Linked DNA regions of Homo sapiens: region 2 is linked to region 1. Evidence: fine-mapped expression QTL. A gene starts in region 1. The other region holds a variant in brackets. All regions are shown on one strand. Distances are from middle to middle. Region 1 holds the start of ERGIC3 (ERGIC and golgi 3). Region 2 has its middle 35 kb from the start of ERGIC3.

The links. PIP is the estimated chance that this variant, and not a neighbour inherited with it, causes the effect.
Region 2: its variant is fine-mapped to the expression of ERGIC3 in blood mononuclear cells (TOPMed, PIP above 0.99).

The regions. Positions count from the first base shown.
Region 1 is chr20:35,536,973-35,545,244 of GRCh38, reverse strand. ERGIC3 (ERGIC and golgi 3) reads right to left here and starts at 3,167. Exons shown (of 13, transcript NM_015966.3): 1 at 3,060-3,167; 2 at 2,852-2,922; 3 at 2,645-2,732; 4 at 2,304-2,423. The coding sequence starts at 3,147. It also overlaps the pseudogene RPL36P4. RefSeq lists an enhancer at 3,406-3,495.
Region 2 is chr20:35,572,454-35,580,786 of GRCh38, reverse strand. It overlaps the pseudogene FER1L4. Among named protein-coding and RNA genes, the nearest start is that of ERGIC3, 35 kb to the right of the region's middle. RefSeq lists a silencer at 3,619-3,781. The variant A/C (reference allele first, on the strand shown) is at 4,923.

The DNA.
Region 1 (8,272 bases):
CTCACTTGCAAGATCCAAGTGGGGGAAGCCAGTTGCCGTGATACAAGGACACACAAGCAACCCTACTGAGAGGCCCATGTGGTGAGGCACTGAGGCATCCTGCCAACAGCCCTATGAGTGAGCCCTTTAAAAGCAGATCCCCTGCTGGGCGTGGTGGCCCATGCCTGTAATCCCAACACTTTGGGAGGCCAAGGCGGGTGGATCACCTGAGGTCAGGAGTTTGAGACCAGCCTGGCCACGATGGTGAAACCCTGTCTCTACCAAAAATACAAAAAGTAGCCGGGTGTGGGGGCAGGCGCCTGTAACCCCAGCTACTCAGAAGGCTGAGGCAGGTGAATCACTTGAAGCCGGGAGGCAGAGGTTGCAGTGAGCTGAAATCGCACCATTGCACTCCAGCCTGGGTGACAGAGCGTGACTCAAAAAAAAAAAAAAAAAAAAAGTAGATCCCCGCGTGGCACCAGCCCTTCTGCCACAGCTGCCATTGGAGAGCAGCAGCCATGGCTCTGTGCTACCCACTATGGCCGTGTGCCTTGACAAGGGCCACAAGATGACCAAGAACATGAGCAAGCCCAGGCACAGCTGCCGCCGCGGGCGCCTGACCAAACACCAAATTCATGTGGGACATGATCCGAGAGGTGTGTGGTTTCGCCCCGTATGAGCGGCACGCCATGGTGTTACTCAAGGTCTCCAAGGACAAACGGGCCCTCAAGTTCATCAAGAAAAGAGTGGGGACGCACATCCGCACTAAGAGGAGGCAGGAGGAGCTGAGCAATGTCCCAGCCATCATGAGGAAAGCTGATGCCAAGAAAGACTGAGCCCCCTGTCCTGCCCTCTCTCTGAAATAAAGAACACCTTGACAGAAAAAAAATAAATTTAAACAACAAATAAGTAGGCCAGGCGCAGTGGCTCATGCCTGTAATCCCAGCACTTTGGAAGGCTGAGGCGGGTGGATCACAAGGTCAAGAGATCAAGACCATCTGGCCCAACAAGGTGCAACCCCGTCTCTACTAAAAATACAAAAAATTAGCTGGGCATGGTGGCACAGGCCTGTAATCCCAGCTACTCGGGAGGTTGAGGCAGGAGAATCACTTGAACCTGGGAGGCGGAGGTTGCAGTGAGCCAAGATCGCGCCACTGCACTCCAGCCTGGGCGACAAAGTGAGACTCTGTCTCAAGATAGACAGATAGATAGATAGATAGATAGATAGATAGATAGATAGATAGATAGATAGTAGATTCTTCAGTGCCCCATCAATCCTTAGATGACTGCAACCTCGTGAGATACCCTAATCCCGAATCACCCAAACAAGCCACTCCTAAATTCCTGACCCAGGGAAACTGAAAAAACACATTTTTATTGTATCAAACTACTAACTTTTGGAGTACTTTGTTACACAGCAGTGGATATCCAATAGCCACTCCTCCCTCCCACCAAAAAAACCTTCTCCTCCAGTCATCTCCATCTCAAGTCATTCATTTGCTCAGGCTGAAAGCGTTGGAATCAACAACCATGACTTTGCTCTCCTCCACTCCACATCCAGTCCTATAGCAAATTATGTTGGTTCCACTGGTGTCCTGCATTAATCTGCTGAAACAACGAATGATAAAACTCCCCACCAGAGTAATCTCTAAGGTGTTAGAAATCCCAGCTTTGAGGACAGTTTGCTGTGGTGGGAAACTGAGTTAACGAAGGGAATTGGGAAGCCACCAAGATAAAGGAAAGGAAGGTAAAAGTGGGTACCCACTCTGTACCAGGCATTTTACACATATGACTTCATTTGATCTTACAATTCCATGTGGTTGGTACTACTGTTTTATTACCACTTTCTAGCTGAAGCTCACAGACTGCAGGAGACAAAGCTAGATGTGAACCCAGGCAATCTGACTTGAGAACCTAAATTCTCATTAAACCACCTGCATTCCAAAGGGGAAGAGCATTAAGGGCTGAATTAAGCCAATGGGCTGGGAAAGCAAACACTCAAAGAAGCCTGGGTCCATCTAGACAGTTCTACCAAGGCAAGAGCACATAAGACCTATCTTCAAACCTCTGGTATTCAAACTACCATCTGCAGGTATTGAGGACCTCTGAGAATAATAGCCAGGTAGATTACCTGACTCGATATGTATAGAGGATTTTAGCTCACTCTGACTCTTACTAGCTGGGGGACCCTAGGCAAGTCACTTGACTTCTCTAGCTCTTAGTTGTTTAATGTATCACTATGCCTGCCACAGTTCACTTGCTAGCAGATAGGCTTGGGTACATCCAGCTTTGGGATCTGAGACCCGGCCCCCTCCCCTGGTTACCATGCCGCTCAGCCTCTGAGCTCACGGGGATGCCATCTTTATCTAGTCGTTGCTTGAACAGGTTGTGTTCCACATCCAGCTGCTGTTCTCCGGCCACATCCATGGCATCAATACTCAGATCTGGAAGCAGGAAAATCAGGCTAAGGTACTGGGACCCTAGGGACAAGGGGATGTGGGTTTTGGAGGGGAAGGGGATACTGGGCCTGTCTTGGGGCAGAACGGGATGAGGAGAAGGAGGTTGTCCTGGGGTCCAGTCCAGAACCTAAGGGTGGAGGTGTGAATCTGGCAGCCCACATGAGAACCCTGGGTCTCTCCAGTCCCACCCATGGTGAGGTACTCACAGGCACAAGGCATGTGCGGAAAAAGTACATCGATGTTGATCTTCAGTTTATCTCCCCGCGACTTGTCCACGTAGAGCTCAGGATGCACCTGGGGCAGCGCTACCTCAGTAAGACTTAGCCCCAAACCTCTCCTTCCCCACTCCCACCCCTAAAGGTCCTACTCCTAGAATGCCAAGCCCCGCCCACGCACTAAGCCCCGCCCCTTACCTCCGTGGTGAGGTAATACTGCAGCTCGGACAGGAACAGTAGCAGCATGAGAAGGCCACTGACAATGGTCACTGCAGGACAAGGGGCGAGGGTCAGAATGGCCTCGAATCCGCTCCCTCAGACACCGGCAGGCCAGTCAGAGTCCAGGAGCCCGGGCTAAGCTCTAGGACGCCCCCCTCCACGCGACCCCGGCCCCGCTGCGGCCTACCGGTGGCGCCCCCGCAGGTCTTGACCCGGAAGTCCTCCAAAGTCTTGGGGTAGGCATCGAACTGCTTCAGCTTCCCCAGCGCCTCCATGGGGACCGGCCGGAAAGGGGACGCCAGCCGGCCCGCCCCTACAGACTCCCTCTTCCGGCCTGGAGCCACGCCCCCCTCTTTTTCCTCACGCAGGCGCAGCAAACCGCACGCTTGGCCCCACCTTTAGCCGCGTTCTCTTACAGGCGGCCCCGCCCAACGATGCTGCCACGCCCCCTTGCGCGGGCAATTGGGTCTGGAAGCTACTGCCCCGGCCTCCGCTGTCCGGGGCGGGATTTTGAGGACTGGGGTGCGAGGAGTTCTCTGCGGGGTTAGAAACGCTAATAGCACCGTTCGTGTGCCTTGTGCTCGGAACTGCACCAGGTGTTTAAGACTCTTGGAACATCTTGGAATATCCTGGAACAGTGGTTTTTCGAGTGTACCGGACCGGCCGCATCATTATCAACTGATTACCTATTAGAAATGCAAATAATTGATTCCCACCTACTGAAGCCGAAACGCTAGGAATGGCATCGGATGATTCTGATGTAAAGTAAGGGTGTCCGCCCTGAAAGCAGGTGTGACTTATCTCCGTTTTCCAAAGAGCAAACTGTGACCTGGAGAAGTTAAATAACTTGCCCAAGATCACAGCCAATTAATAGCAGGACCTGCTTCCAGCCCAGTTCTTCTGGACCTCAAAGTACTCTGGGAATCAGGGTCTTTTGGGTTGATTTTACCTAAACAGCGTCCCAGTGCTTCTCCTGAGCGCTGCTTTCTGAATATTACCCTAAATTGCTCTCCAGGCCCTGGGATCCTCACGGACACGCTCTATCCCTCCAGGTTTAGACTCAAGTGATATGGAGCTTAAGCTCTCCCTGACACTTCCCATTGCAGCCCAGTGTCTCTAGAGGGACAGCTCCCACAGTAATGCAGCTGCAATGAGTAAGATATAAAAGCTCATAGGCTTTCATACAGGAATTCCACTTTAGGAAGTAAAAGCACCATGTCAAGGTTAATAGAAAAATTTTGAAAAAGAAAAAATATGTAAGCAGCTATCCAAGGTTAACAGAAAAAAATTTTAATATAAGGATAAAAGTACCATGATCTGGGTGGTTGTTACACCTTAAGATATTGAATCTGTCTCTTAAAGATTTTAAGTGCACCACATCATAAAGATGTATGCATGAGATTGTTCAATGGCAAAAATCTGGAACCAGCCAGAATGCCCACTGATACATTAAATAAATTGAATAAATCACGATACACCCATTCTATGGAATATTAGGCCACTTTTCAAAAGAATGAGGTAGATTTACTCCTTTAGGTATACTAAGAATGTATTTTTAAGGGGGAAAAGATGCAAAGTAATGTGCATTCCATCATTCCATTTTTTAATTAAAAATTGGGCTGGGCACAATGGCTCACACCTGTAATCACAGCACTTTGGGAGACCGAGGAGGATCACATGAGGCCAGGAGTCTAAGACCAGCCTGGGCAACACAGCAAGACCCCACTCTACAAAAACTTTAAAAACTACATCTGTAACCCTAGCACTTCAGGAGGCCGAGCCAGGAAGCATCACTTGAGTTCAGGAGTTTGAGACCAGCCTGGTCAACATGGTGAAACCCCATCTCTACTAAAAATACAAAAATTAGCCAGGCGTGGTAGTGTGCTCCTGTAAACCCAGCTACTTGTGAGTCCGAGGCAGGAGAATCGCTTGAACCTGGGAGGCGGAGGTTGCAGTGAGCCGAGATCATGCCATTGCATTCCAGCCTGGGCGACAGAGTGAGATTCTGTCTCCAAAAATAAAAATAAAAATAAAAAAATTAGCCAGGTGTGGTGGCATGCGTCTATAGTCTCAGCTACCTGGGAGGCTGGGGTTGAGCCCAGGAGAGTTTGAAACTGCAGTTGTTACCAGGTTACCTGCAGTTGTTACCAGCATAGAGTTGTCCAGGTTCTTGGCGTGTTGAACAAAACACATAAAGTAACAGAAGGGCAACGAAAGACAAACAGCAACAGAAGAACGGAATAACAAAAGCATAGATTTATTGAAGACGATTCATAGCGGCAGCTGGTTAGAGCAAGCTGCTCAAGAGCCTCCTCAATCAGGGTTTGTATTAAGCTAAAGGGACCTGGCAACACCCCTAGGTGCCCTTTAGAAGCCTCCAGTTGGCTACACCTATGAAGGATTGGCCTGCGACCAAATCAGAGGCTGAAGTGGAGACTTGGCCCACAGCCAATCAGAGGCTGAAGTGGAGATTTGGCCCCACGGTCAATCGGAGGCGGAAGTGGAAACTTCTGTCTCGTTATCATAGGATTGAAGATGTGGCCTGTATGCTGCCTAGAACTGGCTGCACCCCTTCATTTGCTTATGTCTTAACCCCCGGTTACCCTGATTCCCTGTTCTCCTGCCTCATAGTGAGCTGTGATTACACCACTGCACTACAGCCTGGGCGACAGAGCGAGTCTCTCTCTCTCTCTTTGTGTGTGTGCATATATATATATATAATATATATAAACTGTTATATATATTATATATATAAACTTATATATATTATATATATAAACTGTTATATATTTTATATATATAAACTGTTATATATATTATATATATAAACTGTTATATATATTATATATATAAACTGTTATATATATTATATATATAAACTGTTATATATATTATATATAAACATATATATAAACTTATATATATTATATATAAACTTATATATATTATATATATAAACTGTTATATATAAACTTATATATATTATATATAAACTGTTATATATAAACTGTTATATATAATATATAAACTTATATATTATATATATAAACTGTTATATATATTATATATATAAACTGTTATATATATTATATATATAAACTGTTATATATATATATATAAACTGTTATATATATTATATATATAAACTGTTATATATATATATAAACTGTTATATATATTATATATGTAGTTATATATAAATTGTTATATATGTAAAACATAGGCCGGGCGCTGTGGCTCACGCCTGTAATCCCAGCACTTTGGGAGGCCGAGGCGGGCGGATCACGAGGTCAGGAGATCAAGACCATCCTGGCTAACATGGTGAAACCCTGTCTCTACTAAAAATACAAAAAATTAGCCGGGCGTAGTAGCGGGCGCCTGTAGTCCCAGCTACTCGGGAGGCTGAGGCAGGAGAATGGCGTGAACCTGGGAGGTGGAGCTTGCAGTGAGCCGAGATTGCCCCACTGCACTCCAGCCTGGGCGACAGAGCCACACTCCGTCTCAAAAAAAAAACAAAAAAAAAAACCTAAATAAAAAAAAAATCTATCTATATATAAAAATCTTAATCTTATATGGGGGAATATGTATTTGTATAATCATGAGAAAAGATTTGGAAGGACTCATGCTACAACTTTGGGGACAACTGGAGGAGGACTTTTCACGGAAGCCAAAGTTTTTGGGTCTCCCTCAGCTAACAGGGTGGCAGAGGACACCTGGGATCTCCCTCTATTATCTGGGCTTCAGATTCCTGAGAGCACCAAGAATTCTATCAGAAATAGGTAATAAGGAATCTGCTGATGGAATTAAGTCTAAAGCTCTGCTACCCTAAGTGGGATCCTTGAACCAGAAACATTGGCCTTATCTGGGAACCTGTTAGAAATGCAGAATCCCAGTCCCCACCCCAAACCTGCAGAATCAGAATCTGCATTCTAACAAGACTCTCCAGATAATTAGCATGCACATTAAAGTGTGAGAAGTACTTTCCTGAAAGGTTCCTTGTTTTATTGCCCACATAGGACCAAAACCAGCAGCACAGGAAAAAAAAAATCTGAGTGCCTCAAATATTGCACTAAGCCCAGGCGCGGTGGCCCATGCCTGTAATCTCAGCACTTTGGGAGGCCAAGGCAGGTGGATCACTTGAGGTCAGGAGTTTCAGACCAACCTGGCCAACATAGCAAAATCCCATCTCTACCAAAAAATACAAAAACTTAGCTGGGTGTGGTGGCGGGTGCCTCTAATCCCAGCTATTCGGGAGGCTGAGGTGGGAGAATCGCTTGAACCCAGGGGTGGGGGGCAGAGGTTGCAGTGACCCGAGACCATGCCACTGCATTCCAGCCTGGGTGACAGAGTGAGACCCTGTATCAAAAATACTTTAAAAAAAAGGCCAGGGGTGGTGGCTCACGCCTGTAATCCCAACACTAGGGGAGGCCGAGGAGGCCAGATTACCTGAGGTCAAGAGTTCAAGACCAGCCTGGCCAACATGGTGAAACCCCATCTCTACTAAAAATACAAAAAATTAGCCGGGCGTGGTGGCGCATGCCTGTAATCCTAGCTACTTGGGAGGCTAAGACAGGAGAATCGCTTGAACCCAGGAGGTGGAGGTTGCAGTGAGCCAAGATCATGCCATTGCACTCCAGCCTGGAGGACAAGAGTGAAACTTTGTCTGAAAATTAAATAAAATAAATAAAATAAAATAAAAATTATTAAAAAATAAAAATTAAAAATTGCACTAAATTCAGATTTTAAAATGTAATATCCATGTATGCAAGCAACACTCAAATATACACACACACACACTGTGTCCCTGCCCTGTGTTGAGTCCTGGGAAGAGAGAGTTGAATTAGAACAGTTCTTGCCTTCAAGAATGTTACAGTCCTGGCTGGGCACGGTAGCTCACGCCTGTAATCCCAGCACTTTGGGAGGCCGAGGAGGGTGGATCACCAGGTCAGAAGTTTGAGACCAGCCAGGCCAGAAGACCAGCCTGGCCAATATGGTGAAACCCCGTCTCTACTAAAAATACAAAAATTAGCTGGGCATGGTGGTGGGCGCCTGTAATCCCAGCTACTCAGGAGGCTGAGGCAGGAGAATTGCTCGAACCCGGGAGGCAGAGGTTGCAGTGAGCCGAAGATTGTGCCATTGCACTCCAGCCTGGGCAACAGAGCGAGACTCCGAATCAAAAAAAAAAAAAGAAAGAAAGAAAGTTACAGTCCTAATTATGGATATTAATATATCCCTTAATAAAATAATAAAAATAAAAATAATAGCTAATAATAATAATTTTTTAAAATAGCTAGCATTGGCCGGGTGCAGTGGCTCACACCTGTAATTCCAGCACTTTGGGTGTCAGAAGTGGGAGGATCACAAGGTCAGGAGTTTGAGACCAGCCTGACCAGCATAGTG
Region 2 (8,333 bases), 36 kb before region 1:
ATATTATATATATATATTTTATATATATATATTATATATATATTTTATATATATATATTTTATATATATTTTATATATATATATTTTATATATATATATATATGGCCTTTAACCATAAAATAAAATAAACCATAATATATATTTTAAGACAGAGTCTCACTCTGCTGCCTAGGCTGCAGTGGCGCGATCTCGGCTCACTGCAACCTGTGCCTCCCAGGTTCAAGCTATTCTTCTGCCTCAGCTTCCCAAGTAGCTGGGATTACAGCCACCCGTTACCACACCCAGCTAATTTTTTTGTATTTTTAGTAGAGACAGGATTTCATCATCTTGGCCAGGCTGGTCTCAAACTCCTGACCTCAAGTGATCTGCCTGCCTTGGCCTCCCAAAGTGCTGGGATTACAGGTGTCAGCCACCATGCCCAGCCAAAAAATATATTTGTGTGTGTGTGTGTGTATATACACATATATATTTTAGACAGGGTCTCTTGCTCTGTCACCAAGGCTGGAGTGCAAATCTTGGCTCACTGTAACCTCCGCCCCCTGGGCTCAAGTGATCCTCCCACCTCAACCTCCTGAGTAGCTGGGACCACAGGTGCGCACCACTATGCCCGGCTATTTTTTTGTATTTTTGGTACAGATGGTGTCTTGCCATGTTGCCCAGGCTGGTCTCGAACTCCTGAGTTTGAGCAGTCTGCCTGCCTCAGCCTCCCAAAGTGCTGGGGTTACAGGCATGAGCCACCATGCCCAGCTTCTGACAGCACTTTGTAGGCTCCAAAGTACTTATGTTTCTATTATGTCATTTGATATTTACAACAGTCTTTTGAATCCAGGATTGTGTCCCTTTTTTTTTTTTTTTTTTTTTGAGATGGAGTTTTGCTGTTGTTGCCCAGACTGCAGTACAGTGGTGTGACCTTGGCTCACTGCAACCTCCACCTTCTGTTTTCAAGCGATTCTCCTGCCTCAGTCTCCCGAGTAGCTGAGATTACAGGTGCTCACCACCACGCCCAGCTAATTTTTGTATTTTTAGTAGATATGGGGTTTCACTACGTTGGCCAGGCTGGTCTCGAACTCCTGAACTTGTGATCTGCCCACCTTGGCCTCTCCAAGTGCTGGGATTACAGGCATGAGACACTGCGCCCGGCCTGTGTCCCTTTTTTAGCTAGGAAACAGGATGAGAAGGCAATGGTTTACCAGAGATTACACAGTGAGGCTATGGCAGAGCTGGGCTTAGAATGCAGGTTTAGATGTATTTTTTTTCCTACCTGTCTCTGTGGCTACCTTTCCCTGTTCCCCAGGTCTTCAAAGACACAGCTCCTCTCTTCCACCCCCAGGACTTGCCGGAGCAGCCTTACTTGCAGCCTCCACTCAGCATCTTGGTGATTGAGCGCCGGGCCTTTGGCCACACAGTCCTTGTGGGTTCCCACATTGTCCCCCACATGCTGCGATTCACATTTCGGGGTCATGAGGATCCTCCTGAGGAGGAAGGAGAGATGGAGGAGACAGGGGATATGATGCCCAAGGGACCTCAAGGTTAGGAACCTTCTCCTTCAGGGACACCAGACAGAAGCCCCTCTGATTCCTGGTGGACGTGGCTCCAGAGGGCCCTCCGATGGGGTGTGGAATCTGACTTCTACTTACCCACTCTCCTCATGCTGCCATTTTCCCCCTCCCAGGACAGAAGTCCCTGGATCCCTTCTTGGCTGAAGCGGGTATATCCAGACAGCTCCTGAAGGTGATGGGGTAGAGGAGATAGATGGTGAAGGGGCTGGCAGTACTTGGGATGGTGCTGGGTTAGAGGGACAAAGTCTGCTCTTCCTCAGCCTCCTCTGAAGAAGCTCCCACTAGGAGGCCTCCTAAATCAAGGCCCTGGGCTGGAGGAAGACATCCCAGATCCAGAGGAGCTCGACTGGGGGTCCAAGTACTATGCGTCGCTGCAGGAGCTCCAGGGGCAGGTGGGGGCAGAGAAGGGTCCCAGGGAGGGGGCTGGGGTGTAAATGGTAAAAAGAATGATATCTTAGCTAGGCATGGCGGCGCGCACCTGTAGTCCCAGCTACTCAGGAGGCTGACGCAGGAGAATCACTTGAACCCAGAGGCAGAGGCTCCTGTGAGCTGAGATCATGCCATTGCACAACAGCCTGGGTGACAGTGAGACTCCGTCTCAAAAAACAAACAAAAAACAAGAATGATCTCATTGAAGGTGGAGCTCTACAGTTTTTCAGAGCTCTTCATTATAGTCCTCTTTTCTTCACAATTCTAGAAGCTGGGGATTATTAACTCCATTATCTAGAGCTGTGTTGTCCAAAAGACATAACACGAGCCACATACGTAATTTTAACTTTTGTAGTAGCCACATTAAAGTAGAAGGGGCCAGGCGCGGTGGCTCACGCCTGTAATCCCAGCGCTTTGGGAGGCCAAGGCGGGTGGATCACGAGGTCAGGAGATTGAGACCATCCTGGCTAACATGGTGAAACCCCGTCTCTACTAAAAATACAAAAAATATTAGCGGGGCATGGTGGCGGGTGCCTGTAGTCCCACCTACTCAGGAGGCTGAGGCAGGAGAATGGTGTGAACCTGGGAGGCGGACCTTGCAGTGAGCCGAGATTGCGCCACTGCACTCCAGCCTGGGCGACAGAACGAGACTCCCTCTCAAAAAAAAAAAAAAAAAAAAAAGTAAAACGAAACAGGTGAAATTAATTTTAGTAATATATTCAAAATACCATTTCAAGGCTGGGCACAGTGGCTCATGCCTGTAATCCCAGCACTTTGGGAGGCTGAGGCAGGCAGATCACTTGAGGTCAGGAGTTCGAGACCAGCCTGGCCAACATGGCGAAACCCCGTCTCTACTAAAAATACAAAAATTAGCCGGGCGTGGTGCTGGGCACCTGTTAATCCCAGCTATTCTGGAGGCTGAGGCAGGAGAATCGCTTGAACCTGGGAGGTGGAGGTTACAGTGAGCCGAGACTGTGCTCCAGCCTGGGTGACAGAGTGAAACTCTGTCTCTCAAAAAAAAAAAAAAAAAAAAAAAAAACTTCAACAAGTAATCATAAAATTTCTGAGATATTTTACATTCTTGTTTTTTGTACTAAGTATTTAAAAATCCGGTTTTTATTTTATACTTATCGCACATCTTTTTCTTTCTTTTCTTTTTATTTTTAGAGATGGGGTCTTTATCTGTTATCCAGACTGGTCTCAAACTCCTGGGTTCAAGTGATCTTCCCACCTCAGCCTCCCCAGTAGCTAGGACCATAAGTACATACCACTACACTCAGCTAATTACAAACTTTTTTTTTCCTGGGTGTGGTGTTTCATGCCGGTAATCCCAGCACTTTGGGAGTCTGAGGTGGGAGGATCACTCGAAGCCAGGAGTTTGAGAACAGTCTGGGGAACATGGTGAGACACCATCTCTACTAAAAATGAAAACAAGTAGCTGTGCATGGTGGTACACGCCGGTGGCCCCAGCGACTCAAGAGGTTGAGGTGGGAGGATCACTTGAGCCTCGGAGGTTGAGGCTACAGTGAGCCATGTTCACACCAATACACTCCAACCTGGGCTACACAGCAAGAGTCTGTCTCAAAAATAAATAAATAAAAATTAAAAAGCATTTATTTCATAGAGACAGGTTCTCACTGTGTTGTTCAGCCTGATCTCGAACTCCTGGCCTCAAGTAGTCACCTCAGTCTCCCAAAGTGTTGGGATTCCAGGCATGAGCCACCAAGCCTGGCCACTTACAGCACATTGCAATTCAGACTAGCCACGTTTTGACTGCTCAGTAGCCACGTGTGGCTGGTGGTGACTGCCCTAGACAGGGCAGGCTGGATGATAAATTGGAGCTTTAAAAATGCAAGTGGCATACACAGTGGGAACTTGAGTGAAGGTTTCCCAACTCTCCTGGAAAAGGGGGTAGACTAAGGGGTTGAAGGGGATGGGGAAGAATCTCTGGATCTGCTCTTTAATTTCAGCACAACTTTGATGAAGATGAAATGGATGATCCTGGAGATTCAGGTAACAGATTGGGCTTTTTGCTCTGGTTCCATCTGCCCATCCCCTACCCACCCAGATATTTCTGACTGGGGCATTTTTGCTGTTTCCAGATGGGGTCAACCTCATTTCTATGGTTGGGGAGATCCAAGACCAGGGTGAGGCTGAAGTCAAAGGCACTGTGTCCCCAAAAAAAGCAGTTGCCACCCTGAAGGTGACTGGGTACTGGGAAGAGGAAAGTCTCCTTTGGATTCTGGACATCGGGCTGTTGCTGAAGTCCTTGCCTTTTAGATCTACAACAGGTCCCTGAAGGAAGAATTTAACCACTTTGAAGACTGGCTGAATGTGTTTCCTCTGTACCGAGGGCAAGGGGGCCAGGATGGAGGTGGAGAAGAGGAAGGATCTGGACACCTTGTGGGCAAGTTCAAGGTACATTTGGGGAAGGAAAGCGGAACCAGGGAGCCCAGGTGGGGATTCAGGAGGACAATTATCTTACCAGAGCTTTTTCTGTCTCCCCCCAACTCAGGGCTCCTTCCTCATTTACCCTGAATCAGAGGCAGTGTTGTTCTCTGAGCCCCAGATCTCCCGGGGGATCCCACAGAACCGGCCCATCAAGCTCCTGGTCAGAGTGTATGTTGTAAAGGTGAGTCTCCATAGCCCTGGCACGCCTCCAACTATAGCTAAGGTAATGTACACAAAACCTACAGAAGGAAGGCTTTGGGAGGAACCTCGTGATCACAGAGTTCAAGTTCTTCATTTTTCAGGTGAGAAATTGAATCCACAAATTTAGGAGATCCCCTAGGGTTATAAAGCATGTTCATGGCAGAACCAGAATTGGGAGTTGGTCTCCTGACCCCTGTTTGTAGTTCTAGTCCTGTAGAATGGCACGTATAATTCTAGGATGAGAACAGGGCTGAATCTCAGGCTTCAGAAGGCTTGTTACCA[A/C]ATACCTTTGTCCAACTTTGTCCATTGGTGCAGTTTTCATACTGAGTTCAGCAGGGCCTTGAAGTATTCTTAAAGATATCTCGGAGCCGGTTGTGGTGGCTCACGCCTGTAATCCCAGCACTTTGGGAGGCCGAGGCGGGTGGATCACGAGGTCAAGAGATCGAGACCATTCTGGCCAACCAACATGGTGAAACCCCATCTCTACTAAAAATACAAAAATTAGCTGAGCATAGTGGCTCATGCTTGTAGTCCCAGCTACTCGGGAGGCTGAGGCAGGAGAATCACTTGAACCCAGGAGGCGGAGGTTGCAGTAAGCCAAGATTGCGCCACCACGCTCCAGCCTGGGTGACGGAGCGAGACTCCGTCTCCAAAAAAAAAAAACAAAAAAGAAAGTGAGTGGCAAAGGGATGGAACGAAAGGGGGAAAGGGGTCAGGGTTGCGAGAATGAGGACAAAAATGACACTTCTCAAAGTAGATCTTTTTGTATACCTCTGACTCTTAGAACTGTAGCAGTGTTTCACATGCCCCTACAATAGACAGAAAATTAAAAGCAATCACAGTGTTGAGGAAACCTAACATGGAATACAAACACTAACAAATGACCCTCACTGTATTACAAATGAACAATATAACCACACTGAAGGAAGTGAAGAACAAAACCAAGTAACTCTGGAAAACAGTAATTTGACAGGGCTCTATAAAACTCTAGATGGGCCTGGTGCAGTGGCTCACACCTGTAATCCCAGCACTTTGGGAGGCCAAGACAGGAGGATCACTTTAGCCCAGGAGGTCAAGACCAGCCTGGGCAACAAAGTGAGACTCCATCTCTACAAAAGATTAAAAAACTAGCTGGATGTGGCTGGGTGTGGTGGCTCATGCCTGTAATGCCAGCACTTCAGGAGGCTGAGGCAGGTGGATTGCCTAAATTGGGTGGATCGCCTGAGGGTCAGGAGTTTGAGACCAGCCTGGCTAACAGGGTGAACCCCGTCTCTACTAAAAATACAAAAATTAGCTGGGCATGGTGGCACGTGCCTGTAGTCCCAGCTGTTTTGGAGGCTGAGGCAGGAGCATTGTTTGAAGCTGGGAGGAGGAGGTTGCAGTGAGCCAAGCTTGTGCCACTGCACTCCAGCTTGGATGACAGGGAGAGAGCTTGTCACAAAAAACAAAAACAAAACAAAAAACCAACTAAACTAAAGATAAAGAGAGCTGAACATAAATGCTGTCATCTAGTTAGAAGTATGTGTTAGCAATTCTGAAACTATATTATGTGTATACTGGTATACATGAATAAGTAAACTATATTGTAGATAATGAGAACCAGGTTTCTTACTGTTGGAGAAAGAAGTTACAGATAAGGAAAGGGGATTAAATGAATGCTGTGGTATTAGATCAGAAACAGAAGTATCTGTATAAACTCATGTTTTTAAATATACACAGATGGAAAGATACAGAAATATAGATATGTGTATATATATGTGGATTATGTTATTCATGTTTGCTATCTCCGTTTGCTGAGAAGGCCTAGAATCAACAACATCCTAGTAGCAGTGAGCAAACCAGGTGCCCAGATTTTGGTTTCTAAAAACCATTATTTAATAAAAGGATTAAGGACTCCTTGGAGTTGATTCCAGGACTAGGACTGGGAAAATATAAGTCAAATCTGGAGCATCTTGTGGGGCAGGAGTAAGGAAGTGCTCAAAAAAGGATGGGGGCTTGATGAAAGAATGAACACAGGAGCCAACCTGAAGGAGCTCCTAATGGTTAAGACTTGAAAAATTGGGGCAACAGAATAAGTAATGAGGCTGGGCACAGTGGCTTTCGCCTGTAATCCCAGCACTTTGGGAGTCTGAGGCCAGGGGTCCAAGACCAGCCTGGCCAACATGGTGAAACCCTGTCTCTATTAAAAATACAAAAATTAGCTGGGTGTGGTGTCAGGCACCTGTAATCCCAGCTACTTGGGAGGCTGAGGCAGGAGAATTGCTTGAACCTGGGAGGTGGGGGTTGCAGTGAGCCAGGATTGTGCCATTGCACTCCAGCCTGGGCAACAAGAGCAAGATTCTGTCTCAACAACAACAAAAGTAATGATAGTATTGGATATTCAGACTTTCTTTTTTCTTCTTTTCTCTCTCTCTAGCTCTTTTTTTTTTTTTTTTTTGAGACGGAGTTTCGCTCTTGTTGCCCAGGTTGGAGTGCAATGGCACTGTCTTGGCTCACTGCAACCTCTGCCTCCCAGGTTCAAAGGATTCTCCTGCCTCAGCTTCCCAAGCAGCTGGGACTGCAGGCATGTGCCACCATATCCTGCTAATTTTGTATTTTTAGTAGAGACAGAGTTTCTCCATGTTGGTCAGGCTGGTCTCAAACTCCCGACCTCCGGTGATCCGCCCGCCTGGGCCTCCCAAAGTGCTGGGATTACAGGTGTGAGCCACCGTGCCCAGCCTGCCTTCTTTTTTTGTTGTTGTTTTGAGATGGAGTCTTACTCTTGTTGCCCAGGCTGGACTGCAATGGCACAATCTCAGCTCACTGCAACCTCCACCTCCTGGGTTCAAGTGATTCTCCCACCTCAGCCTCCGGAATAGCTGGGACTATAGGCACACACCACCATGCCTGGCTAATTTTAGAGATGGGGTTTCATTCACCATGTTGGCCAGGCTGGTCTCAAAGTTTTGACCTCAAATGATCCGCCTGCCTCATTACAGGCGTGAGCCACTGCACCCAGCTCTCTGTCTCCTCCTAATGCTCCCATTATACGTGTGTTGGTGTACTTAATGGTGTTCCACATTTGTTTGAGGCTCTATTTCATTTTTCTTTTTTCTCTTTTCTCTCTGTTCTTCAGCTTACATAATCGCTTTTGATCTAGCTTCAAGTTTGCCAATTCTTTCTTCTGTTCAAATCTACTATTGAGCCTCTCTAGTGAATTTTAAATTTTAGTTATTGTACTTTTCAACTCAAGAATTTTCATTTGGTTCTTTTTAAAAAAATGTATGGCTTGGCTGGGTGTGGTGGCTCATGCCTGTAATCCCAGCACTTTGGGGGGCTGAGGCGGGTGGATCATGAGGTCAGGAGACGAGACCATCCTGGCTAACACGGTGAAACCCCGTCTCTACTAAAAAAAATACAAAAAATTAGCTGGGTGTGGTGGCATGTGCCAGTAGTCCCAGCTACTTGGGAGGCTGAGGCAGGAGAATTGCTTGAACCTGGGAGGCAGAAGTTGCAGTGAGCTGAGATCACACCACTGCACTCGAGCCTGGGTGACAGAGTGAGATTCTCTCAAAAACAAAAAAAAAAATGTATATCTCTTTATTGATATTCTCTATTTGATGCAACGTTATCATCATACCTTCCTTTACTTCTCTAATCAAGCTTGCCTTCAGTTCTGTGAACATGTTTACACTGGCTACTTTGAAATACTTT